4 linked regions of the Homo sapiens genome follow. The protein of the gene in region 4 interacts with the protein of the main gene of each other region in a pairwise test. Each region holds a gene or a part of one and is shown on either strand. Other genes may lie near its edges. The genes, in order: GOLGA2, HSF2BP, MSS51 and SNX18.

Region 1 (7,000 bases), on a different chromosome or scaffold from region 4:
ATTCTTTCTTTTCCTATAGGAAGAGGAAGACAGAGCTCTTACGAGGGGGAGGCAGAGACGGCACAGCAAGGGACATGCCCCCAGAATGCCACCAATGTCCCAGGACAGGCCCACCCATGGGACCAGGTTATCAGGGACCCTGTGGGGATGGGGTGGAATCTGGGGGGGTGAGCCTTCTTCCCCAGGCTGGGAGTGGGTGAGACGAGACTGAGGCCTCTACATTTGAATGCCCCCCAAACCCAGCAGTCATGTTGTGAGCAAACAAAGAAATCACGTTACTTCTTCCAACTGATCCGTAATTTCTTGGTTCTGTTGTTTCTGTGGGGAAGAGTCAAAGGAAGGTGACTGAGGGTGGCCCCCTCAACTCTATTCCCCAGACCAGGAACGGGTAGGCAGGGGCCAGGAATGGATTTTAAAGGCAAAGTTCTCAGACCCAATGGGAACACGAACTGGTAAACTCTCCTCAGGCTCTCAAGGAAAGGGGATTTGTGTCTTTGTTGGTTTTTGCCCACAGCCACAGAACTGAAAGTCTGAATCTCGATTCTCTTGAAAGGACAGTAACATAAACCTCTAGAGATGGAGTGTGAGAAAAGCCCACCCTCTGCCAGTTTGTGATTTAGAAAGGTGTAATCATTCAACAAACATTTGCTGAGCACACACAGGCCAGGTACGGTTCTTAATAGCAGGGATACCAGACAGAAAAAGACAGACAGGAGCCCTTGGCCCTGAGGTTTACATTCTAATGGGCCTTTAAATCTTGGACTCTCAGAGCTAAGAGACCTTTGATACTCTCTAACTCTACCTCCTCAGGAAATGCAAGCCCAAGGAGGAGAGGTGGCTTGTCCCAAATCAAAGAGCAAATTAAGGACTGAGTCAGGGCAGAAATACAGGGCTCCTGACAACCAGTCAGGCTAGCGCTTCCCCAAGAGGCAACAACCCCAGGGCGTGTGTGGCAAGGACTCGAGCAGGGGTGTCTAGAGAAGAGAGAGTAGGCAAAGAGGGCAGCAACAGAAGAGCCATGCTGCATGCTCCGTGCTCTGGGGTCCCTCCAGCTGAGGCCTGGGCCCCCCAGCTCCCCATTCGCCCTTGGCACCAGGGGCCCCCTGCCCCTTTCTTCAGGGTCCCAAGGGGAAACTGGAGCCCAGGATTAGCAGCATGGAATCAGGGGACCCCACTGGACTCTTACCAATTTCTCTATCGTGATATTGAGTTGTTTGTTTGTTACATAGCTGGAGTCCAGGGCTACCGCTAGCTGTTGGTACCGGCTCTGAGGCGCATGCAGAGAGGAGGAGTTGGAGGAGGATTGGGGGGAGAGGTAGAGAGAGCAATCATTAGGGTTGGGGGGTGTGTGGGCTGTCTCAGCTGGCAGAGGGGCACCCAGCCCCCGCTGTGGGAGGAGGTTGGAGGGCTGGCCTGCAGGGTCACTGGGCCACGGCCCAGGGCCTCTTACCTCCAGATCCTTCAGGTTAGCAGACGATGCAGGGCCCTCCCCATTGACACATGTCGCAGACTATAAGAGACGAGAGTGCACATGGAGATGTTCTGTCCCCTCAGTGTCTAAGCCCTCTAACTTCGTTTCTTCCCCAGCAATTGGCAACATTTTCTTTTCTAACTTGGACCCTCTGTCCCGTAACCCCTTTGTGCCAACTTCTCTCATGGTTCTTATTTCCCCACCATCCTTTCCTCCCGAGCAGCTCTCATCCAGTGCTTCTGCAGCAGGATACAATGATGCAACCAGTCATGGGGTCCAACTCCTTCATGTGCACAACTTCAAGGGAGAAGGCTCAGGGAAAAGGCGACTTCCTTAACATTGCCCAGCACATTGGCTGGTCCCAGGATCTTCCCTCTCTCTTGTGAATCCCTGCTTCAGTTTCTATCATAGTTCCCTTCCCCCCACCCCGCTCTCGGCCTCAGTTCCTGAGGTACCTCACAAACAAGACCATTGAGCTGTTGGGAGAGTTGTCGCAGGCTCTCGGTTGATGAGAAAGTCCTAGGGATGGAGACACAGGGGTCAGGGGTGCAGGTGGCTCAATGGGAAAGAAGGTCATGGGCAGTGGCCTCCCTGACTCTCTCAGCCTAGAGACTGCTGCCCCAACAGGAGACACTCACTTGGTTTCATCCATGAGATTAGGGACATTGTCAGCATCATGATTCTGTTTGGGAAGAAACGTGTGAGATGGTCATTCAATTTCTGGTAAGAATCACCCAGGATGGGGTGAGTCAAGCTCCCAAACTCATTCTAACAATCTTCAATCTCCCCAGGCCTCAAGGAAAAAAGCCCAGTCTGAGCCTTCCCCCGGCCCGGTCCCCAGGAAGGGCCCTTGACCCTAGGGAACAAGCTGCCTGTGAAAGGAGAAGATAATGCATAATAGGTACAGGAGGGCAGTGGGCAGAGGGGGAGGAGGCACGAACCTGAGATGCCGCCATGCTAGTGAGACTGGCACCAGGGGAAGGGACACCGCCAGGTAACACGGTGTCATCAGATGGTTGTAGAGTAGCAGCATTGTCCTTGGGTGTCTGTCACAGAACAGAGCAGGGGGTTAGGGGGCCATGCGGGAGAGGTGCCTCAGTACTATGAACACAAGGGTGTGGAACAGGTAGGACAGGTGTTGCTGCAGTCAGAGTGACAGTCACACATGCTAGGAGCCACTCAGGGGTGTGGATTGGTTGCCCAGGCCTTGGGCTGCTAGGCAGCATTTCAGATGGCCAAAGCTCAAAGCAGGGGCTGCACGGCCTCCTTCATGAACACGAGGACCTCGCTCTCCCTGGAGCTCAGCAAAAGACAGCAGCAGGCTCTGACCTGTGGCAGCCACAGCAGGCAGGAGGAAGGTGTGCCAAAGTCAGGGAGGAGAAAGGCACTGTTCTTCCAGAAGGCCAGTCTGTGCTGCAGAGTGACCCTCACTGGGCCCCTACTGGGCAGAGGATGGTGATGAGGAAGTAGTTGTCTGGGCAATGCACAATGTAGCTATCTGCCTGTCTCCTCCTTTCCTCCCTTCCCTTCTCCCCTGCAGTGGCACAATCATAGTTCACTGCAGCTTCCACCTCCTGGGCTCAAGCAATGCTCCCACCTCAGCCTCCCTAGTAGCTGAGATTATAGGTGCACACTACCATGCTCAGCTAATTTCTATAGAAACATGGTCTTGCCATCTTGCCCAGGCTGGTCTCAAAGTCCTGGGCTCAAGTGATCCACCTTGGTCTCCCAAAATGTTGAGATTACAGGTGTGAGCCATTGCACTTGGCCTACTGGCTGTGTTTCTGATTCAGGCCTTTTCAGGGGGAAAAAAAAAAAGCTGCCCAACTAGAAGACTCTCTCCAACTCTCTGGAGGTAAAAAGAGGATAAACCATGGCCAACACCCCCACCCCGACCTCTTACCTCCAAAAACATCTACCCAGCCAAGAAACCACCCAAGAAAACAGAGGTAAGACATCTTCCCTGTGGCTCTTGGCAACTTGGAAGTTGTAGGGCCTCTTTCCTGGGAATAGTACCTGAGGACAATCCTAGGATTCAGAACTTGGGGTCATGTGGAGCCTCTCCCTTGCCCCCAACTGGACCTACCTGCTTGATCAGAGCCCCACCCAGCCTCTCTCCAGGCTCTGACCTTACTCTTCGCCCAAGCCTCTGGTTCTAGAGATCTTCTAATATCTGACAAGCCAGATGGGCAGACAGTGGAAAAAGCTGGCTGACCAGCTAAGCTGGACAAGAGAAAAACACCAGGGAGCCAGGGCCTGGCCACGGAAGCTGGGTCTGGGAGAAGTGACTACACCTCTCTCCAGGGAAAGGACTGCGCGCTCACTGGACCCTTCAGCCCTGGCTTCTGAAAACCCAAATCTGCTTCCCTCCTTAGAGCAAGTGCTGCAGAGGCTGGTGGAACTGAAGATGAGCCAAGCTGCCTTTGCATCTTTGCAAGTTTACTGTGACCATGGAACCTGGTGTTTCCTTGACAATGCCTACAACTGAATCTAATAGGTCAGAGCAAGGGTTCAGTTGCTGGCCAGGCATTAGCCTTGAGGGAAGGCTGGCACTCCTAGCAATGGACCCTGCTAGGCTTTAGGGCCCTCCTGGCATCTTCGGTTCCCACTGATCTCTAGGATTAGACACAAGAATGCTCAGAGGAAGGGAATTTTTTTTTTTTTTTTTTTTTGAGATGGGAGTCTCACTCTGTCGCCCAGGCTGGAGTGTAGTGGCGAGATCTCCACTCACTGCAACCTCCGCCTCCTGAGTTCGAGATTCTCCTGCTTCAGCCTCCCAAGCAGCTGGGATTATAGGTGCACGCTACCACGCCCAGCTAATTTTTGTATTTTTAGTAGAGATGGGGTTTCACCATGTTGGCCAGGCTGCTCTCGAACTCCTGACCTCAGGTGATCCACCCTCCTCAGTCTCCCAAAGTGCTGGGATTACAGGCATGAGCTACTGCACTTGGCTGAAAAAGCATTTTTCTGAGGACTTTCTGACACACATAGCATGATTATTTTGTGAGCAACCAAGTTATTTCATTATTTTAAGTCTTGTAGCCAAGATGGAGTTTTTAAAAAAGCCTACTCTCCTCAAAATGTCCCATCCCATTAAGATATTTTTTCTCTCTCCATTATTCCCTACTTCTGGAAATGTTATCAGCTCCGCTCAGGATACTACGATCACAGGCCTGCATTCCTGGAGTAGAAAACTTACATGGTAATAAAAATGAGAAATTAAAAAAAAACAAAACCTACATTGGAAACAGTTACGGATATAGAGAAGGTATAAAAACAGCAAGGGGCTGGGCATGGTGGCTCACACATGTAATCTCAGCACTTTGGGAGGCCAAGGCAGGTGAATCACTTGAGGCCAGGAGTTCGAAACCAGCCTGAGCAACATGGCAAGACCCCATCTCTATTAAAAATACAAAAAAAATGGCCGGGCGTGATGGTGCAACATCTGTAATCCCAGCTACTTGGGAGGCTGAGGCATGAAAATCACTTGAACCCGGGAGGGGGAGGTTGCAGTGAGCCAAGATCACACCACTGCACTCCAGGAGAAAGAGCAAGACTCTTTCTCAAAAACAAAAACAAAACAGCAAGAAGGAAATACGGGGATCTAGGCCTTTGTTTCCAGAATAGAGGGACCTGGGCTGGCACAGAATCTCAGAGCATTAGGAAACAGGCTGAAGACCCCCTAATCCACTGGACCATTGGCAGAGCAAAAGCCAAATGCTTTTGGCTGCAGGTCACCTCTAAGCCTGTGCTCCCCAGCCGTACCACTCAGCGTCTCCTCTGAGCTGGCAAGGTGAGTCACAGCACCTGGACAGACCTGATCAACTGGAGGGTAACAGGTATGAGACTGGACAACTCTCTAACAGCAGCCAAGGCTGCTCTGTCTCAGTCCCTCTCCCCATACCCATCTCCAACAGGATCAGGCTCTATTCGTGCCCTGCTCCTCTGGCTTGGCAGGAAGGAGTCCCCCAGGTGAGTTAGAGATGGAAGAAATGCCAAATCACAGCCAGAGGAGGTTGTCTCCCAGCCCTGTGTACCTCCATGCCCTGCCCCCCACCAGGCTCCCTGTGTTCCTGAAAGGTGCTCTGTGAGTTCACACTCTGGCCACGGCCTCACCGCTCCCCCTGCCTCCCCCACTCCCCATATGGATTAATGTTACCCACCTTTAATCTTCAAGCCAGCTTCAAATGCCACCTTCTCCAGCCTGGAGTCCATTTGGAACCAACCTCCCCCCGAGCTGAGCATTTGGAATGTTCCAAAATTCTCTCTTGCCTCCTTCAGAGGAGTCTGCCTCCCTCGGTGTGCAGCCTACCTTGTTCATCTATTTTATCCACTGTTTATTTATCAAAGTGCCTTTGTTGTCAAGAGCCCAATGAATATGGCTAAATGTCCATTTGGAGAGATTAGGGGCAGAACGTCTTGGTCACTCATCTGTTTGGTTAACCTCACAACTTTTACAGTTAGTTCCTCTGAAAAAATAGCTTCAATCCTTCCAACTATAATGTGAACTCATTTTCTTTTAACCCTTTGTTCCCTACTCTTAAACCAAAGTGAATTAATTTAAAAAAAAAAAAAAAACACTAACTTCTAGGTGGTTTACTGATCTTTGCCTTTAGGGTAAAACCTAAAGGTCTGTTGGTTTTTTTGTGTTTTTTTTTTTTCATCTCTCCTAGTCTGAGAGTACCCACACTGGGCATTCAAAAGCCCAAATCCCAGAATCCCAGACTGGGAGCAGTGGCTCACGCCTGTAATCCCAGCACTTTGGGAGGCCAAGGTGGGTGGACCACTTGAGGTCAGGAGTTCAAGACCAGCCTGGCCAACATGGTGAAACCCCATCTCTACTAAAAATACAAAAATGAGCCAGACATGGTGGCAGGCACCTGTAATCCCAGCTACTCAGGAGGCTGAGGCAGGAGAAACACTTGAACCCAGGAGGCAGAGGTTGCAGTGAGCCAAGATTGTGCCACTGCACTCCAGCCTGGGCAGTGAGACTCCGTCTCTGAAAAAAAAAGAAGAAAAAAAAAAGCCCCAAATCCCACACACCTGCTCTAAAAGTTATTCCCAAATTACCTTTAAACTTTTAAACTTTAAGATATGTCTCACCTTCTCCAAGATGATAAAAGATTTGGGGGAAGAATAAAAACCCAATCAATCAAGCAGGTGAAGAAGCGGACATAAACAGGCGGAAGGTTAATGGCAGCAACATAAAATAAGCCAGAGGCAAAGTATCCCCCAAACCAGAGAAGCCTCAGGGGCATGCACAGCTGGAGAGAGCAAGCCAGAGAGGGGTCTCGGCACTGCCTCACCTTCCACTTGTCCAATGGGGGGAGCGCTACCCCATTGGAACGGTTAAGGTCGGACACCAGCACCTTCAGAATGTCCTGAATCTACAGGAGGCGAAAAGGGAAAAACAAGGGCAGGGGGAGAAAGGTAGAAGTGGCTTAGAGAGAGGCAAGAAAGTCAGGGAAGGAGGAAGATGTGGGTTCAGGGAAATGAAATAAGAAGAGTGGAGGAGATCAATACCATGGC
Region 2 (7,040 bases), on a different chromosome or scaffold from region 4:
GCAGAAGAAAAGCTGGAAGCTAGTACAGGTTGCTTCATGAGGTTTAAGGAAAGAAGTTGTCTCCATAACATAAAAACAACGTGCAGCAGCAAGTGCTGATGGAGAAGCTGCAGCAAGTTATCCAGAAGATCTAGCTAAGATCACTGCCGAGGGTGGTTACACTAAACAAGAGATTTTCAATGTAGACAAAGTCGCTTTCTATTGGAAGAAGACGCCATCTAGGACTTTCACCGCTAGAGAAAAGTCAATGCCTGGCTTCAAAGCATCAAAAGACAGGCTGACTCTCTTGTTAGGGGCCAATGGTGCGGGTGACTTTAATTGAAGCCAATGCTCATTTAACCATTCTGAAAATCCTAGAGCCCTTAAGAATTATGCTAAATCTACTCTTGCCTATGCTCTAGAAATAGAAAAACAAAGCCTGGATGACAGCACACCTGTTTCCAGCATGGTTTACTGAATATTTTCAGCCCACTGTTGAGACCTACTGCTCAGAAAAAAAGATTTCTTTCAAAACACTACTGTTCATTGACAATGCACCTGGTCAATCAAGAGCCATGATGGAGAGGTACAAGGAAAGTAATGTTGACTCCATGCCTGCTAATACAATACCTATTCTTCAGCTCATATATCAAAAAGAAATTTCAACTTTCAAGTCCTATTTTTTTTAAGAACTACATTTCATAACGCTACAGCTGCCATAGACAGTGATTCCTCTGATGGATCTGGGTGAAGTAAACTGAAAACCTTCTAAAAAGGATTCACCATTCTAGATGCCATTAAGAATATTCATGATTCAGCCAAGCGCAGTGGCTCATGCCTATAATCCCAGCACTTTGGGAGGCTGAGGTGGGCAGATCACCTGAGGTCAGGAGTTCAAGACCAGCCTGGCCAACATGGAGAAACCCCATCTCTACTAAAAATACAAAATTAGCTGGGCATGGTGGCGCATGCCTGTAATCCCAGCTACTTGGGAGGCTGAGGCAGGAGAATCACTTAAATACAGGATGTGGAGGCTGCAGTGAGCCGAGATCACGCCGTTGCACTCCAGCCTGGGCAACAAGAGAATATTCATGATTCATGGGAGGAGGTCAAAATAACAACATTAACAGGAGTTCGGAAGAAGTTGATTTCAATCCTCATGGATGACTTTGAAGGGTTCATGACTTCAGTGGAGTAAGTAACTACAGACGTGGTGGCAGAAAAAAAGGATAAGTTGCTTCTTATGGAAGAACAAAGAAAGTGGTTTCTTGAGATGGAATCTACTCTTGGTGAAGATGCTAAGACATTGTTGAAATAAGAACAAGAGATTCAGAATATTACATAAACTTAGTTGACAAAGCAGCAGTAAGGTTTGAGAGGGCTGACTCCAATTTTGAAAGATGTTCTACTGTGGAAAAAATGCTATCAAACAGCATCACATGCTACTGAGAAATCTTACATGAAAGGAAGAATTAATCAATGTGGCAAACTTCATTGTTCCTTATTTTAAGAAATTGGCACAGCCACCCCAACCTTCAGTAACTACCACCCTGATCAGTTAGCAGTCATCAATATCACGGCAAGACCCTCTACCAGCAAAAAATTGTAACTTGCTGAAGGCTCAGATGATCATTAGCATTTTTAGCAATAATGAATTTTCTAATTAAAGTTTGTACATTTTTTAGACATAATGCTATTGTACATACAACAGACTACAGTATAGTGTAAACATAATTTGTATATGCACTGGGAAACCAAAAACATTCATGTGACTCATGTATTATTGCAGTATTTGCTTTACTGCAGTGGTCTGGAAGCAAACAGGCAACATCTCTCAGGTGCGCCTGCACTTACTCGTGACAATTCCAGCCAGAGCGAAAACAAACTGACTTTCATCCGAATCCAGCTCCTGGACATCACCGTCTAACGACTTCACAAAACTCTCCATTGTTTGACCAGTGATGCTGAAAAACTTCAAAGCTTTATCCTGAAAGTTTGAAAATCAGAGTGTCATATCTTTTTACAGACACTAGTGTGAAAACATTTTAAAAGTGCAGGATACAGAAGATTCTAGTTTTAATTGTAGAATATTGTAAAATCTATTCCCTCATTAAAAGTTCCCATTAAAAGAACAGAGAAAGCAGCTTGAGGCATGCAGGAGCAACAAAAACTACCCTGAAGATTGGTGGACTCTTCACACGCATAAATATGATATAGGACAAATGTACATGATGATGAAAGTAAATGGGAAGAATTCACTCAAAATGTAATAAAAATATACTAGAAAAACATGCTGCCTATTTGCTCTGGGCATTAAACCAGAGGTGTTCAAACCTTTAGCATAACTTTTTTCAAAAAAAAAAATCTTAATGAAAACATGTAAAAGAGGTAAAGACTGGCTCCTCTGGTAGTTTAAATCTTCATCACTTGGCAAAAAGCATTTCCAAGTTTGAACCTTTGAGTTACTTCCTTTGGGGTGCTAGAGTTCTGAAGAAGAATTTTAAAACCAATGTACATTTTAACCCAGTTAAAAAATTGGAAATATTTGCATTTACAAATGATATAAGAAAACTTCATGGATGATCAAATAATCTAAAACTGGGTTGTGGTGATGGTTAATGCAACTCTAAAAATTTGCTAAAAACCACTAAATTGTACATTTACAATCTTACAGTATGTAAATTAAACCTAATAAAGCTCAACAAACTTTTAAAAACACATTTAGTCTTTCCACCTAAAGTCAAACACAACTGTTATTTCTATTAGCAGTAACTAATTTCTCACTGGTTTCCTGCCACACGTCCCCCTCTTCACCTTCATTTCCAGTCATGATCACGCCATGCTCCCAGAGTCAAACACCGATCTTTTTTGGCTCCTCTTGTCCCCTCCAGGTGCCCACTCTGCCCGGCCATCGCATCTGCCTCAACTGCCACAGCTCTCATACATGTTCCTTCTTTCCCATCTCCCCTGCAGAGGGCCGAGCTCACTCCAGCCAGACCAGCTAGAATGACCACCTCATCAGTCATCCTGTGTAGACGCGATGTGCCACAACTCCACCTCCTAATCCATCCTCACCCACTGTCAGGTGAATCTTTCTAAAATTCTGCTCTTATCCTATCACTTTTATTGAAAAACCCTTAGGGAAAATCCAGTCTTCCCACCTACAGAATGAATCACCAACCTGGTATTCAAGGTCCCAAAGTCACATCCCAACCTACGTTTAAGCTTTACCTCCCCACTACTCTATGACATTAACTCTCCACTGTGTCAACTGACCTACTCACTGTCCTAAAACAAACCCACCCATTTTCTGCCATTTCTACCTATTCATCAAGGCCCATTTCAAATTTATCCCCTTCTGTGAAGTTCCCTGACAAATGCCTGCACGCATGCATACATGTGCGTGTGCACGCTCCCACACACACACATGCTCCCACACACCCACACGCTCCCACACACACGATCCCACATACACAGGCTCACAGGCACACACACTCCCCCCCCACACACGCTCCCCACACACACACTCCCACACACACAGGCTCCCACATACACACACATGCTCCCACACACACACACGCTCCCCCCCCACACACGCTCCCACATACACACGCTCCCACACACACACACGCTCTCCCCACACACACGCTCCCCCAAACACACACACGCTCCCACACACACACTCACACAGTCTCACACACACACGCTCCCCCACACACACACATGCTCCCCCACACAAACACACATACGATCCCACATACACAGGCTCACACACACACACACACACTCCCCCACACACACGCTCCCCCCACACACACACACAGGCTCCCACATACACACACACGCTCCCACACACACACTCCCCCACACACACATGCTCCCATACACACACGCTCCCACACACACACGCTCCCCCCCCACACACACACACTCCCCCACACACACATGCTCCCACACACACACACAGTCACACACACATGCACATGCTCAAACACACATGCTCACACACACACGCTGCCACACACACACACAGTTGAACCTTGAAAACAAGGGTTTGAACTGCACAGGTCCACTTACACAAGAATTTTCTTCAGTAAAAGTTACACCAAGTGTGTCTGCTGCTCCAGCCTCCCCTTCCACCTCCTCCACCTCTACCACCCTTTAGACAGCAATGCCAACCCAACCACTCCTCTTCCTCCTCCTCTTCAGCCTACTCAATTTGAAGATGATGAGGGGGAAGACCTTCATGATGATCTAACATACAAAAAATGTGTTAATCAACGATTTATGTTGTCAGTAAGGCTTCCAGCCAACAGTAGAGAGAGTCAAAAGTTCTATGTGGCTTTTCGACTGTGCAGGGGGTCAGCGCCTCCAACCTCCATGTTGCTCAAGGTTCTGCATCTATATGTATGTGTGTGTGTGTGTATGTATAAACACACACACACATCTACATACATGTATATATGTTAGATAACACAATATTCAATAAATACTATATTAACCATGAGATAATATATATAAAAGCACTTTTGATCTTCTTAAACACATGTAAAGTATTAATACTGAAGTGGTAATATGTCCACATATACCACAAGGTCTCCTGGAGAGAAGGGATCTTATTTCATTCCCTTTGCATCAGGTTACAATGAACCATATACGATAAGTATTCAATAACTAGCTGATGAGTGAACAAAAGAAAATGGAAAGATATGGACTTAGTCTTTAAATGCCTTAATAAGCTATATGCTCTAATTTACACAAGCAGTAATCAACAATATCTGGAGAGCCCACTGACCATACTTACTCCTCCCAAAATGGCCTTGACGACTTCCTCACTGCTGGAGACACCCCACAAGAGGGTACACGCTGCTGCTCCCATTTCTGTACAATACTCTGCCTGCTGCAGGAGTTGCTGCTTCGCTTCATTCAACTGCTGTCGAAGAGCCAGTTTCTCCTAAAAGCAAAACAAAATTGAAAAATAAATAATAGCATTCAACCTTGATATATCTTTATTACATTTCCTCTTTCACAAAGATATTTATTAAAGAAATGCATGTATAATTATAGAAAATAGTTGCAAATGAAAGCTAGTCCTAAGAGAACCATAATCTGTATCTACAAAAGAAATTTCAAAGGCAAAAATATTTGAGAAATATCTGAGGAAAGAACATACTACCACATTATGGTTGATAAACCCACAGAGCTGAATTCATCTGCTTTAAGTAACTACATGAAATATCTCAAGCCCCAAGTAACTATACCCAGAACCAGCACCAACCGAGGCTTCTGAACAAAAACAACCTCACAAAGCAATTTACCCAGAAAGCAACATTTCTAAGACAGGAGACTGCCTCCTCCAAATGGCTCACTCCATTGAAAAAACGCCATCTGCCAGAGGCAGACACCAAATAAAAGGCACTTGGACATCAGGATTTGTAAAAAAACAAGTACTTTAGAAAAACTCATCCTGTATAAACGTATCCTTAACTCCTCATGAGAATATTGCCAAAGGTGCCAGTAAATATAAAATACAATCTGTGAAGCTAAACAGGGAAAGAAAACCTAAAACCTAAGACCAGGTAGGAAAGATGGGAGGAGGGGCAAAAAGAAGTGTGAAGGCTGGGAGTCCTATTCATGCCCTGGTGCAGCAAGCCAGTGCCAGTCTAAGAAGAAGATGGAGGCTAGGAAGAGTTTCCTACTCTCCCACCAGCAGTGTCTGAGGTGACCTGTAGCTGGGCAAGTCTCCACCATGGCACTCTTCACAAGGGAAACACAGGGAATGGCCGTCCTGATGGCCCTCCTGACAACACAAGCACACTTCGAGGATTCACCTTGAGTGTACTGCTAGAGTGATGGGGGGCTTCCTGTCCTCTCCAACCACCAGCACCAGGTACCTGAAATTCCCTTAAAAGGTGATAGCATTTCCTGATTTAATAAGACAAAAACTGAAAAATATAAAACCCCAGTTAAATTCATTTATACCAAATGTAATTAGTTACATAAACCACAAAATTAAAGTATATTAAATGCTGTAGATTTTCTTTTAGAGAGATAAATACAAGACAAAGTAGAGGGGGCTTTTCACCCCCTGGAGGAAAAAGGGAGCTTTGGAGCCACAAATCAAAACTGTTGACCTCATAACTTGGATTAGGGTGGCCCACTCATAGTTACCTGGAGACAATGCGTTTGGCACACAGAGATTCATACACATTCATACGTATATGCACACATGTATTTAAGAAAAAAATGGCCACTGAGCCTCTGGCACATGCTAATACTGCATCATGTGATCTGTCAGCTCCGGGTTTTTAATGTCTTCATTATAGCAACAATCTGGACTCCTAGATTCATCCTTTCAGTGTACGTAGCTGAACACAAGTCATGGTGACACATGAAGAAAACTATGTCACAGCACTTCCTTTTGGAATTCTAGCTTTTCTCACAACTTAAGCTGTCTGCATCTCAATTAGTCAGGATATGGTGGTTCTTCTGCACGACCACAAAAAGACTACTGAGAAGAACCAGGAAGGACTTTGCTCACTACAGTCACATTTGGTAGTTGCAGGAGGATATTCCCCAACGCAGGGTTCCACACATAGTATAATAATATCAAAAAAAAAACAAACAAACCTCAAAGAAAATCATAGCATTCCCAGTAACATCAAAAATAAGAATAATTTTTTAAGGTGCAAGACCTATACAATGAAAACTACAAAGCATTACTGAGAGAAAGTAGAGCTAAATAAAGAGATACACCATGTTCAAAAATTGGCAGGATGTCAATTCTTCCCAAACTGATCTACAGATTCAACACAATCCCTATCAAAATCTCAGCAGACTTCTGTACAAAGTGATAATCTGATTCTAAAATTTCTATGGAAATTCAAGACAGAATATCTAAAAAATTGTCTGAAAAAGAAGAACAATGTTAGAAGACTAACAGTGCCTGATTTAGAGGAAAAAACTAACTATAAACCTACCGAAATAGAACCATTGTGGTATTGCTATAAGGATGGACATATAGATCAGTGAAACACTGACATGTCAACTGATTTTAACAA
Region 3 (7,715 bases), on a different chromosome or scaffold from region 4:
AAATCAGAACCACAGTGAGATATTACTTCATACCCACTAGTATGGCTATTATAAAAAAAAAAAACAGAAAATGACAAGTGTTGATGAGGATATGGAGTAATTTGAACCCTCGTACACTGCAGGTGAGAATGTAAAATGGTGCCACCACCATAGAAAACAGTACGGCAGTTCCCCAAAAAGTTAACATAATATTACTATATAACCAGAAATTTCATTCTTAGGTATGTGCCCAAAATATTTAAAAACAGATACTCAAACAAATACTTATATGTGAATGTTCATAGCAGCACTATTCGCAACAGCTAAAAGGTAGAAACAACCCAAAGGTCCATCAATGGATAAATGGATAAACAAATTGGGATATAAATATACATATGAAGATGTATATTATTCAGCTATAAAAAGAAATGAAATACTGATACACGCTACAATGTAGAGGAACTTCAAAAAACATTATACTAAGTGAAGAAAGCCAGACACAAAATGTTGTATACATGTTGTATGATGCCATTTCTATGAAATATCCAGAATAGGTAAACCCAGAGACAGAAAGCAGATTGGTAGTTGCTAAGGGCTGGGTGGAAGGGAAAATGGGGAGTAACTGCTTAATGGTTATGGGGTCTTCTTTTGGGGTGATAAAAATGTTTTGGAACAAGACAAAATTGATGGTTGAACAATACCGTGAATACACTAAATGCCATTTAATTGCTCACTTTAAAATTATTAATTTTATGTTATATGATTTTCACTTCGATTAAAAAAGAAAGGAAGGAAGGTATTCATAGAGATTGAGAGGCTAAAAAGTTATTAATCCCCAGATTGTCTTCAGGTACAGAGAAATAACAGAGGATTAAAAACGCTGGCAGTGTGAATGAGGAAACTGTTAAAGTTCAAACCAGGGATCATGTTTTGTTACAAAAATGATCTGACATTTGATCCTTCTAGATCAGATCTGTTAGGAAAAACCTCAGAATCATCATGCAGCTGAGGTGTATGCAGGTGGCAAAAATAAACAAAAAGCTCCCAGAATTATCCAGCTCATATCCATATCTTACAACATGACTCTTAAAAACCTGTCCTCAGGTTAATGGAGGAACAAATTTGTATTTTCCTTTGTACTTTCTATCTCCTCATCCTTATGTTTCCATCCACCCTCTTAATGTCTCCCCTTATCCCATGGGTGAATGGATGGTTTCAGTCCACAGAACAGAAATAGTCAAGCTCATCTGTATACCATATCCTATATATTACCTTCAATGAAGAAATTGGACCTAATGATATTAGATTATCTTAGGGTTTAAGGGTCATGTCCTTTTACCAAAAGAGTAAATGGAATTGCCCTTCACACTTTAGGGCCCAATTTCCAACAACTAACCTCATTCTGTCCTCCACTTTTAATCACCTCACATTCTCATTGCATTTTCAGAATCACTGCCATTCTACAAAAAGCATTTATCTACTCTACCCACCTGCCTCAGGCAAGATAACATTTTCTTTTTCTTTCTTTCTTTGAGACAGAGTCTCACTCTGTCACCCAGGCTGGAGTGCAGTGGTGCGATCTTGGCTCACTGCAACCTCCACCTCCCGGGTTCAAGTGATTCTCCTGCCTCAGCCTCCTGAGTAGCTGGGATTACAGGCTCGCGCCACCATGCCCAGCTAATTTTTGTATTTTTAGTAGAGATGGGGTTTCACCATGTTGGTCAGGCTGGTCTCGAACTCCTGACCTCGTGATCCACCCACCTCGACCTCCCAAAGTGCTGGGATTACAGGCATGAGCCACGGCGCCCGGCCAAGACACCACTTTCTTAAACCTTGAAAGAATGACTTTTTTTTTTTTAAATAGGTATGGAAGGAAAGTGTGATTTGAGACAACTCTAGGGTCTTAAATCCCAGAATTTATAATAGATATCTCCCTGAAGTTAAAACATAAGCCTTTTTGCTGCAATGGAAGCAAGCCACTTAAGGTCAGAAAGGTACTGCTTTACTTTTCCGCATTTCCAAGGTGAGGTCTTCCTCTAAAGGAAGATTAGCTCTTGGCAATCTGGGAGTTGGCTGAACTGGTCAGAAAGCAAAAGGATCACACAGTTTGAGGAAGAGGAGTGGTGGTAAAAATCCCTAATGTCACAGTCTCCTCTGTGTCTAGAGCACAATGTTCATGATACAAATGAGTTAGCTTTCTGGCAGAAAAGAAAGAAGGTGGGTGAGAAGCCAGGTCTTTGATCTGCATCTATATACATCATCAGGTTCATGTTTGAGTTTATATACCCCAGGCCCAGACACAGCTTCCCTGGTTCTAAATCTCCTGTAAAGAGCCCCAGGCTACTCCCTGTTCACAGGTTATAAACTGAGAGAAACAAAGGAAAAAACAGGGGACTCACAGGAGAAGCTGGAAAGAATTGCAGTAAGCTCTTTGAACTTTCCAGAGTCTAGAATGCTCTCCACTTAGAAAGGGAATCCCTTTCATTTTTTTCTAGCCATCCCCAGTGACTTAGGCTCTAATTTAGTCCCAGTATAAGAGAGAGAACACCAACACCAAGAACTGGAGAGGAGACATGATCTTGATTGCCTAGAAAAACTTTTATCCTTCATGTCCAAATTCAAGACAAAATATTAATCTATTCCTAGACCTAGGTTTCCCATCTTCTTCTTTACCACCAAGAGTCCCAAGTTTCACCTAAACTACAGTCATATTTTCACTATCTCCAGATAAGGAGTGCTCATCTAATTTTCTGTAAGTCACCAAAAAATGCAAAACGTCTTTGGAGAGGTAGGGAGAAGGAAGACTGAAACTGGTCATTGGAGATCCTTATAAGGGGGTAGGAAAAGAGAAGGAGAAATACATTAAGGACACTGTAATTATGGCCACATTCAGCTGTTTAATCAGTGATTAACACTGCCTGGGGTGATAAATACTTTACTCAATTATAAACTAAGCAAGCAGACAGGTTGACGGAAAAAAAAACTTACCCTGCTAAGTCCTCAGCTTCCTTCCTTCTCTCTTTCCTCCAAGTGAAATGAGTGCTTGATCTCTTCAGATCTAGGTTGTGGCTTACTTGCAGCTGTCCCTTCATATCACTTTCCTTTGCAAACTGCTGAAATGCTGAGTCTCAGTGATTAAGTGTGCCCTGCCAACCAGACAGACAAGGCTGAATTCTCCCTAATGAGGCAAAGAGGGATCTGTCCCCCTGCCTGAGGGCTTCTCTCTAACCTTTGTTCTCTGCCAAGGGGGCTCAGGACTGTCAACACTCCCAAGTGTTAGCCAAGTAAAGGCCAGGCAGGCTGACAAAAAATGAAACCTGCTGCTTCCTAGACTTCTCTCACTCAAGGCAATATTTCTGTTCTCAGTTTACAGCTTCAGAAGAAAACCCTTTGGATTAGTGCAGAAGTCAATATTTGATTGGAAAGGGTAAGCACCTTTCCAACCAAGTGGGAGGAACCAGAGGACCCTCTGGAGTTCTGTTTGTTGATCTAGACACAGGATGAGTTCCCCCAGGCCTGGTGTCCTTTTTCAGCATAACAAACATTGTTCAAACAAAACTCAACAATGTCCAATCTTGGATTAAGTAGAAGGGAGAAAATAAATGGCCATTTAATGGTACAGAATGAAATCAGTTGTAGGGGAAACATGCAGAATTAACTTGTAAAATTCACTTTCCCTGAAAGAAGGGTAAGATAACTCTCTGAGTGAGAGAGTCATCAGGAGCACTTTACCTGTATTAAGAGAGGAATAAATGCTTCTGGGATATTAAACAAAACCAAAATACTAGTTAATGACTAAAAATACATACTATTTCTAGGAAAAGAAAATAGAAAAGAATCAGCTCAACCATTCTCTTATCCTCCTTGTAATTGCAGCTGATCCAGGAAATTCAATTCCACAGTCCTAGCTTCTTTCTACTTACAGCTAGCCTATCTGAAGTTGTTAGGGCAGTGGTCCTAAAAGACTGCAAGATCTTTCTTACCCTCAAAAAATTTTTTTAAAATTTTTAAATAAAAAAGTTCTGACTTTCTGCTTATATCTGACCCCAGCTCTCACTTACCTGCTTCTTTGAACATCATCAAACTGGGGAACAGAATCACTCGCAATGAGGTCCCGGAATGTGGCAAATCAAATCCACACAGGAACCCCAAACTGTAAAAAGTACAAACTACATGCAGGGAAGGTGGAAGAAAAGTGTTAAGGATTCAACCAAACACTGCATAACATTATGTAGAATAGCTGTGGATAAAGGAAAATCAGTTGCAATAGGCAAAAACCCTAAATAAAATAGGGGTAATTCACTTTGTGCAAAAGTTTCAGGCCAACTTCAAATTTAACAGGCTTCAAAATTTATCTGAGAACCTCAAATGTTTTGAGTTCTGTTAATAATGGCTGAACTGCAGAAGATACAAGACATCAGAGATTGACTTTTCTAATTCAGAAGTTGTCAATGAATATAAAGGAGAATAGTAATATAGAAAAACTTTGATGTTGAATACTTATATTTTACTATCACTATGACTTGCTCTGGTAAACATTTAAAGTTACGAAGTCTGAACTTTTCACAATTTGTATTCATCATGAGTTGCATTTAAAAAATCTTAATAAATGGTATGCTGTGAAATGAATTATGAAGAAAGACTAGAAAGAGGTTCCTATTCAACATGTAGGAAGTGGTCTGTGAGGCACTATGTGATACTTTATCACTCTTCAGGTATTTTGCTTTTCCTGAGTTTGGTTCCTTTCTCTTATTTTCCTCTTAATTTTTACCATCAATCCATAGTTTTTTTGCTAATACTACTTAATGCTCACCCATGATTCCCACAAACACTATATAATGCTAGTTATGTACCTAAGGGCTAGGAAAGTTCCTGGCACCTAATATACTAGTTAAACTCTTACTTACTTTTTAATTTTTCTATTGGGTCTATTTTAGCCAGATAAACTCTTTACTGAATAGCTTTCATAAAACAACATCGACAACAATCTTTAAGGTATGCAACTTTCATAAACAACATAGACAACAATCTTTAAGGTATGCAATGCATAATAACTTTAGAGCCAACTCATGGACTGCTTTGTAAGTTAATATTTTGGCAAGCAGAGAGTTATAATAATTAACAATTTGTGGCCGGGTGCAGTGGCTGACGCCTGAAATCCCAGCACTTTGGGAGGCTGAGGTGGGCGGATCACGAGGTCAGGAGTTTGAGACCAGCCTGGCCAACATGGTGAAACCCCATCTCTACTAAAAATACAAAAATTAGCCAGGCGTGGTGGTGGGCACCTGTAGTCCCAGGTACTTGGGAGGCCGAGGCAGGAGAATTGCTTGAACCCAGGAGGCGGAGGTTGCAGTGAGCCAAGAGCATGCCACTGCATTCCAGCCTGGGTGACAGACAGAGATTCCGTCTCAAAAAAAAAAAAAAAAAAGCAAAAGAAAAAGAAAAAAGAAACAATTTGAGAAGTTCTGTTTGTTACCTGGAATTAGGCAAGCATGTGTGTGTGTGTGTGTGTGTGTGTGTGTGTGTGTGTGTGTGTGTGCGCTTGCCTAATATATTTACATATATTTTGTTTGTTTTTAAGGGATGGGGTCTCACTCTGTCACCCAGGCTGGAGTACAGTGGTACAATCATAGCTCAACACAGCCTGCAACCATGAGCTCCTAGGCTCAAGCAATCCTCTGTCTCAGCCTCCCAAAGTGTTTGGATTACAGGCATGAGCCACTGTGCCCTGCCTATATTTTGACTTAGTGTTTTATAATATATCTCATTGTAATTATTGTTGAGAACTATAATTCAAGTTATTGTATGATTATATAATTTTGAGCAATATCCTAATATCCCTCAATGTGCAAAATCCTATACTTATTGTGATTATGACAAAGAAGAAAGGAATGATAGGAAAATGCAATTATCACTAATATTTTTCTTATTGTTAGAACACCCAGTAAATTCCCAATACCACTATAACAAAATTCTAGACAATAACATATTTTCTTTCAATTAAAAGACAATAAACAGTGATCTTAAATATTAGACTTAGGAGGCCTACAGTAGGCATTCAAAGTCCTCTAGTGCTCAGTTACTAATGCTCATGTAAAACAAGTATATAACAAAAGTTTTTTTTAAGGCAAAATTTATAAAGAATTTAATTAATCAAATTACCATGAACTATCCACGAGATAATCTCCGGAGGACATCCCAGCTCTAGTAACAGGATTTTCTGATTTGCATCAAAAGGACAAATCAGATTGCATCTTCCAAATAAAACCCAACACAGAGATAGGAGCAGCGGCCCATGCATGGAATTTATTGTGTGCTACTGTTTATAAAATACTCGAATAGTCCTGCACATGCATAATATTTCCAACTTAGACAGGAGACCATACAGGGTGCACTTTCTGGCAAACAAAACAATAGATGGTTCCGCTGCCTGGAGCTCTGAGTTGTATTCCAGGGCATGAGGGAAGCAGGCCACCAAAGTAAAGGGAAATACCAAACTACAGTGGCAATCAATACAGGTCAATAATTGTGAAAAATTAGCACATGGTTCCATTTAGTTTAACCAAGCAGTTCAGTAACTATCAAAAGAAAGGTTTCAACATGCAGTCTTGACTTTTATGCTTCCACTAACATCTGAATGATTGAACAGAACCATTGCTTCTAGGCTGCATTGCTTAATCAAAAACACTTCCAGAACATTTTAAAATTTCCTTTGCATTAAAACATAAAAATGATAGAAAGCCAGCAGCAAATCACCCTGGTGGCTCTCTAAGCAACTTGAGTACTCACAATAAACTAAAATTTCTCATAACATCTAGGTAACCTATACATGTCGTACCTGTACATCATAGGTCTATATATTAAATATTTGCAAAATGAAAACATGCATACACAAAATACGTCAAGTTTTACAGACATGATTTGAATTAAAATTTACTTTGACAATGTACAAACTTCTTTTAAAGTACCTTAAATGAGTAATTCTGTAATTCTTCATAATTTTGAAATTTAGAGGTTTTCTTCTTAAATCTCTGGGGTGTAAGTCTTAAAAGATCTGGGCAAAAAAGACTCTAAATTAGTTTTTGGATTTGTGTTCAAGTAAGAGAGCCTGCCTGGAAATAGGATATGCATTCATAATTAAAAAATACCAAGACTATGTTACAGAATTAGCCACATTTAAGAACTATAGACCTGAGGTCAACATTTTGTATAAATGCCAACTGGGTTTCTCGGCATTTTGCTCACAATTCAAAATACAGCTAGTAACCTCAGAAATGTATTTTAAGACCATGCTAATTCATCCTTTAAAGACATTTCATGGAAAAAGAAAAGTCCACATTAGCTCTTAGGATTGCATTTGAAATCATGATTGAAAAACAAAATCTAATTCTACTGAAGGGGAAAAGAAATCTGATTTGTAAACTTAAATGTGTGAACCACAAGCATAAAATGGAGGTGTGGATGCCCTCCACTGGAAATTGCCCCAAGCCCCTTGCTCACTGCTCTCCACCTTGGCAGCGATGACCCAATCTTATCAGATAGCACATGTCCCAGGGCCCTCAAGCCTCCATCCAGGAAGGGGGCTAGGGTCTCAGAAGCACAATGGTTTCTTCAGAGAGACTGTGAAATTTACAGTCAGCTTGGCCGACCCCTCCAGCTCCTCGGGTGATCTGTCCATTTGGGGCCCGAGATGTGAGAGTCCCTGGGAAGTAGTGGGTCACTGGGCAGTATGGTTG
Region 4 (5,368 bases):
AGATGCTAAGAAAGGCAGGCCAGGAGAAAAAACATATATGTAAAACAAATCTGTAAAGATAAGCAGATACAAGACTACAAAGCCCCACAAAGAGGGCAAGCTTTGCCAAATGGGACTTTGGCCCCTTGCAAGATATGCCAGGTCCCGTAGCTATTATATTTTGGCTTATGTGTGTTGGAGTTCGCCTATTTATGGCAACCAACAGACAGTATGTCAAGTACTTTACTTAAGCACCTGCTTCTGTCTCAGGTATTGGACTCATGGGAGCTATTATTTCAAAACCTCTCACTCACAACTTACTGCTATGTGCTTAATTCCTGATGTCACTAATGGAAGCAGATACTCCATGGGACTATCTGAATGATGATGGTTTTAAATTAATCAAATTAGCTACAGTGTTTGATGAATAATTTCTATGGTAACTGCAGATGAAGCTCAAGACAGAACATGCTCTTCTATTTTTCTGTGTAATTCTTCACATTAAATAAATGCCTCCTTGATGAGTGGAGAAAAAATAATTATATTCCATTGAAGCTAAGAAATAAAGCAACCTGTTTATTTTTTAAAAAGATAAACATGGCTGATCTGCACTAATCATAACATTTTGAAGGAAATAAAACAATATTCAACATTTCTAGACTACAAATAAATAATACCCTGTTTTACTTATTCTGTTAACCAAAGATGAAGGTGGAAATGAGAAAATTGAATGCTTATGGACTTAAAGGTATCAGACATGGCATTTGATTTTTGGAAAATGAAGACATAAATGGAAAATGGCTATGGCAATGAACTTAAGAATGACATTTAAAAGTTTTTACACAAACTTTACATACTTGACAGACTAAAACATTTTTCAAGTCCTTAATTATGAGAACAGCAGCAAAATTTAAGACAATTAAAAATCGGCATTTAAGAATCTGCTGTATTATTGTGAATAAATGCAAAACAACTGTATCAGTGAAGCCTGGGAAAATCTCAATTACTATAATATTCGTGCACTGGCTTTACATTTCACTTTTGAATGCGTTCCCTCATCCTGGGTGCAAACTGGGTACCTTCAGATACAACAGCTTGGACGGGGAACAAGATTACGACACATGGCTGTAGAACCAGTCTCGCTGCGTTACAGTTACAGCATATAAACAACTCTGTCTAATAAAAACAGTAAAACCAGGCTCAAGTGCACACCCTGTGTTACAAACACATCACATATCAGGATTATAAATCATAGAAATAAAGACAAATAATGGCATGAAGGGCATGATAGTTTATTTTTAAAAATTGTACCACACTGATCATGATGACCAGCATACACATGATAATGGCTTTTCTCTTGGGTTTAACATTGCAGTAGTTTTGCATACTGCAATGTTTCAATAGGACCAAGAACGTTAGAGAATAAAGATCTTAGATGAAAATGAACACTAATAATTCTAGTGTCCTCCCCCATAGAATTAATGTAAATCCCGTATGAATCAGTGGCATTATAATGTTATGTGGTTATGAAGAATGAAATTTCTCTTAGAAGTAGGCAGCATGAATTTATACTTACATAAGTATAACTTATACTTCCTTGTACTTTCATCTTTAGTTTTTATAATTTAAGCTATGTCCACCCTGGCTAAAGTACAATCATACAATATACCTCAGATAATTTCCATGCTACCATTGCACAAGTTTAGTGATTTTACTATTAAAAAAAAAAAAATCCAACCACCATCAAAATAAAGAGGCAAATAAAAGTAATTTTTAAATCATTTGAAAAGCATGGTGCTTATTTGTCCAATACAGACTCAAACTTAAATGCTATAGTTATAATTTCCAGACTTCCGCAAAATTAACATTTATATATACATATGGGTTTTGTTTATAGAACTGTATTTTGCAATCAACAAGTTTTAGAGACAACATATTTGGTTACAGTTCCACATATCTGTAGTAAAGACAAAGCCACATAATGTTCATGATGTTAAATCTGGCTCTAAGTAACCTAAGGTACAAAATTTTGACCAAATATCAAAATGATAATCTGATCTTAAAAATACAACCCATATGAAACTACTTTTTAGAGAGAAAATGTGCTGTTCAGTAATTATTTCAATAACCTTTTCTGAGTATCTGCAAACTGATCCTTTTCTTTAATCTTTGTGACTCACCAATATTTCAAAGTGACCTCTTCACTTCCATGTTACCATTTCAGTACCCAGGGATTTCTGAGGCAGCATAAGTTTGACTTCATAAAAACAGTAGATACTCTAACAGTGACAATTTTTAAATCTGTAAACTCAATAATCACATTAGTTAGCTCAGCAACTATAAAAACATTGAGATTGGGGCACTGTAAGCCAGAATCTCTTTGTGCTTTTTAAATTAAGCTGCTTTTGAATCTTTTTGGTATTTATCAGCCATCTGTATTTCCCTTATAATAATAAAAGAATACATTTAAAATAAATTTTAAGGTTAAATGTCCTGGGGGGGGGGGGCTCATCAATACCTTTTTTTTTTTTAAAACATAGTATAAATCAATTATCTTTTTCCTTCAGTATTTGGAATAGCAAAAATTATTTCTGGTCCCTCCTTAGATCAATCCACACCACTTTTCATGACATATTAACACTGAAATTTACAGACATCCCTGAAAAGTTTTTAAGTAAACAAGTGAATCACAGTGGAGTCTCAATCAGTTAACAGTGTAGATCCATTTTTTTTCAAAAAACTGAATATTAAAAGAAAATCTTCAACCTAAAAACAAAAACAAAAACAAAACCCTCCTAAGAACTAAAGCCAAGTGTGTGTTGTCAATGATTCGATACTTTTATCCCCTGACTGATTTAGACTCCTCCTCCTCATGTTGTAAGACATGTTTGCTGAAATCTTCACGCCAAGCTTTTGGGACGCCTGGGTGAAGAGGCTATGCTACTGTTGCATCTAAGGGAATAGTGGCACTGTTTCTTCCCTAACAGACTTCATATCCAAAGATGAGCAATGAATCTCACTCCCCTGCATTCACCAGCATCTTATCAGGAGATAATACTTGCTGTGCAAATTGATGACAGCTGATCGTCCCACCCCACCGCCCCCCCCACCCCCTACTGCCAATATAAGGTTATCATCAGTTTGTCATTATATGCACTGGCCTTTCACTCTTTCAATCAGAAAAGCTGTGGCTTACTTTAAAAAGGTGGGGAAGGGACGGGGAGAAATGAAAAACCAAGAGTCTAAAGGCACAAGGTCGCATAGCTGCTCTAGTTGGAGTTTGTAAACAGAGAATAGGTTGAATTTAGGTAATCCCAATCTATGAGAGTAAAAAGGCATCCACAGCAGGCTTGTATCCAGCCAGCTTCTTTGAGACCCTTCATGGGTTTTGAGGTCTACAAAGTATGCACTAAAATACCCATACTTCAAAAAGCAATAAGGCAAATAGTATAATCATTATTCCAAAAGTTACAATGGTAGTGTAGGCATACATAGTATAATTTAGTTACAATGTGTGGTACTGTTTCTATTATATAACCATATTAACTGTTTATTTCCTACATAATTATAAATTCAGCTGGGTTTCAGATGAACACAAAACCGTCCTTGTACCACCACTGATAGCTGGCAATAGCTCTTTGACAGCAGTTTTTATTCTGCTGTAGAAATTATCCTTGAACTGAAAAAGTCCATAATCCAACGTCCAGTCATTAAACACTATCATATTTGTGAAGAGCTTCTTCCAACTTCTGGGTAACTTTTTGGAAAAATATTATTTGTTGTTGTAAGAAATGCTGCATCTGTGATTTAAAGTCTCTCACTCGAATTTGATGGAAGTGGTGAATTTCAGCCAAAGTGGCAAAAGAAATAGTGTTACAGCGATCCTGAATGCCGTCAGCCTTCTGCACCTCCATCTTCCCTTCCTCCACGTGTCGCCTACTCTCCTTGACTTTGGTAAGAGCTCCTGTAGTTAAAAATAACAATTAATTAAAAACCTATATATCCACATATCCCAAGAACATAACTACATATTAAACAGAATCTTGGGCATTATAAATAGTTGCCCAAACTATTTTCAATACCTTTGAAATTTAAAGTGAGGACCATAATTACTCATTTTAAAAAAAGAAGGAATCTGGTAAAGTTTCTGAAAACACTCCCTTTGTTAAAATTTCTCTTCAAAAACTAGTGTTTGTTACATTGACCAAGAATCTGTAGTATCCCATCTCTTCCAAGTAGAGATGCTATACATAACTGATAATAAACTGCAAGGAAATGTCCTTAAAAAGACACAACAAGAAACTGCAGTTTTCACAGGCTCAAAAGGTGTGACATCATTATTTCCACATATATTAAGAGAATTATACTGTTTATAAAAACATCCCATAAAGGATCCAAACCCACTTCCTCAGAAAGTCTCACTAAATAATTCAGACTCTAGAACCAGTCTCTGAAACAAGTTAGTACCAACACAGGTTGTGTTTTGGAATCATGTCACAGTCATGGAGGGTGCTTGGCAATGTTGCCAGTCTACAATTGGAGGTCACCCTCATGAGGGCTGGCCTAGCCCATTATCTTGTCATCCAGAGTAAACACCTAGCTGAAGTGCTCAGCACACAGAAAGTGCCTGGTGAAGGGGTGAATTGCGAACACATGTCTGATTCTGACTTCACGTTGCATCGGGAGACCCACACCTGGAGTACAAGGGCTTTAATAAGAATTTGCCCCTTTTTTGGGACTATAAGGATCGGTGAGTGTTAACTCTGCCCTAATGATGACTTAGGAATGATGCCAGCGGTTCCATAATCTCATGCCTAGAAGTATCAACAGAGGGTGTTGCAGGGGTGGGGGTGAAGGATTGACCACTCCGGCAGGTGCCATACGAACGCAGGCCCTCCCCCGAAAGCACAGTCATACAAAGACACAAAAGTTTGAGGATGTTTAGGGGTAGGAAATAGGCTATTCCTGAGTTCTTAGGAATGAGTAGTAATAAAGCTCAAATCACTTGAACAAAGCCAGCTTAAGAATTCAGATTTCCCGACTGTGCCTAGCACTCATTCCACTAAACCATACTGAAAGGCAAGACAGAACACAGAGACAAACAGCTAGAGTGCCTGGCTTGGCAGTCTGAGAACACAGTACTACTGAGGAGGGAACCAGGAACCTTGAGTAGGAGGAGGTACAGAAACTGAGAGACTTTGTTTCGGAAATGTTGTTTTGCCCAATAGTGAAATATACAAGGGAAGATGCCCTATTTCTAAATTTCTTCAAATCTCCTAAAGAATAATATAATATTAAACAAAACCCTTAAACGTAAAGCAGTATGCTTTTTTGGCATAGTTCAAAGACCTGAGAAATGAAAAAGCACCAACAGCAAATTTCATCCATA

Evidence for each region.
Region 1: the proteins of SNX18 (region 4) and GOLGA2 interact in binary tests that used the Homo sapiens proteins (3 or more experiments, as listed by UniProt).
Region 2: the proteins of SNX18 (region 4) and HSF2BP interact in binary tests that used the Homo sapiens proteins (3 or more experiments, as listed by UniProt).
Region 3: the proteins of SNX18 (region 4) and MSS51 interact in binary tests that used the Homo sapiens proteins (3 or more experiments, as listed by UniProt).

What each region holds. Positions count from the first base shown.
Region 1 is NC_000009.12:128,266,008-128,273,007, forward strand, and holds part of GOLGA2 (golgin subfamily A member 2), read right to left. Parts: intron 6,859-7,000; coding exon 6,778-6,858; intron 2,518-6,777; coding exon 2,413-2,517; intron 2,154-2,412; coding exon 2,110-2,153; intron 1,991-2,109; coding exon 1,927-1,990; intron 1,511-1,926; coding exon 1,451-1,510; intron 1,268-1,450; coding exon 1,187-1,267; intron 319-1,186; coding exon 280-318; intron 14-279; coding exon 1-13. UniProt on the Homo sapiens protein: Peripheral membrane component of the cis-Golgi stack that acts as a membrane skeleton that maintains the structure of the Golgi apparatus, and as a vesicle thether that facilitates vesicle fusion to the Golgi membrane.
Region 2 is NC_000021.9:43,628,489-43,635,528, forward strand, and holds part of HSF2BP (heat shock factor 2-binding protein), read right to left. Parts: intron 4,934-7,040; coding exon 4,784-4,933; coding exon of another isoform or gene 4,775-4,783; intron 1,967-4,774; coding exon 1,834-1,966; intron 1-1,833. UniProt on the Homo sapiens protein: Meiotic recombination factor component of recombination bridges involved in meiotic double-strand break repair.
Region 3 is NC_000010.11:73,430,546-73,438,260, forward strand, and holds the start of MSS51 (putative protein MSS51 homolog, mitochondrial), read right to left. Parts: upstream 3,017-7,715; 5' UTR 2,968-3,016; exon of another isoform or gene 1-2,967. Other genes in the region: PPP3CB (serine/threonine-protein phosphatase 2B catalytic subunit beta isoform), read right to left, coding at 7,697-7,715.
Region 4 is NC_000005.10:54,541,754-54,547,121, reverse strand, and holds the end of SNX18 (sorting nexin-18), read right to left. Parts: intron 3,944-5,368; coding exon 3,690-3,943; 3' UTR 536-3,689; downstream 1-535.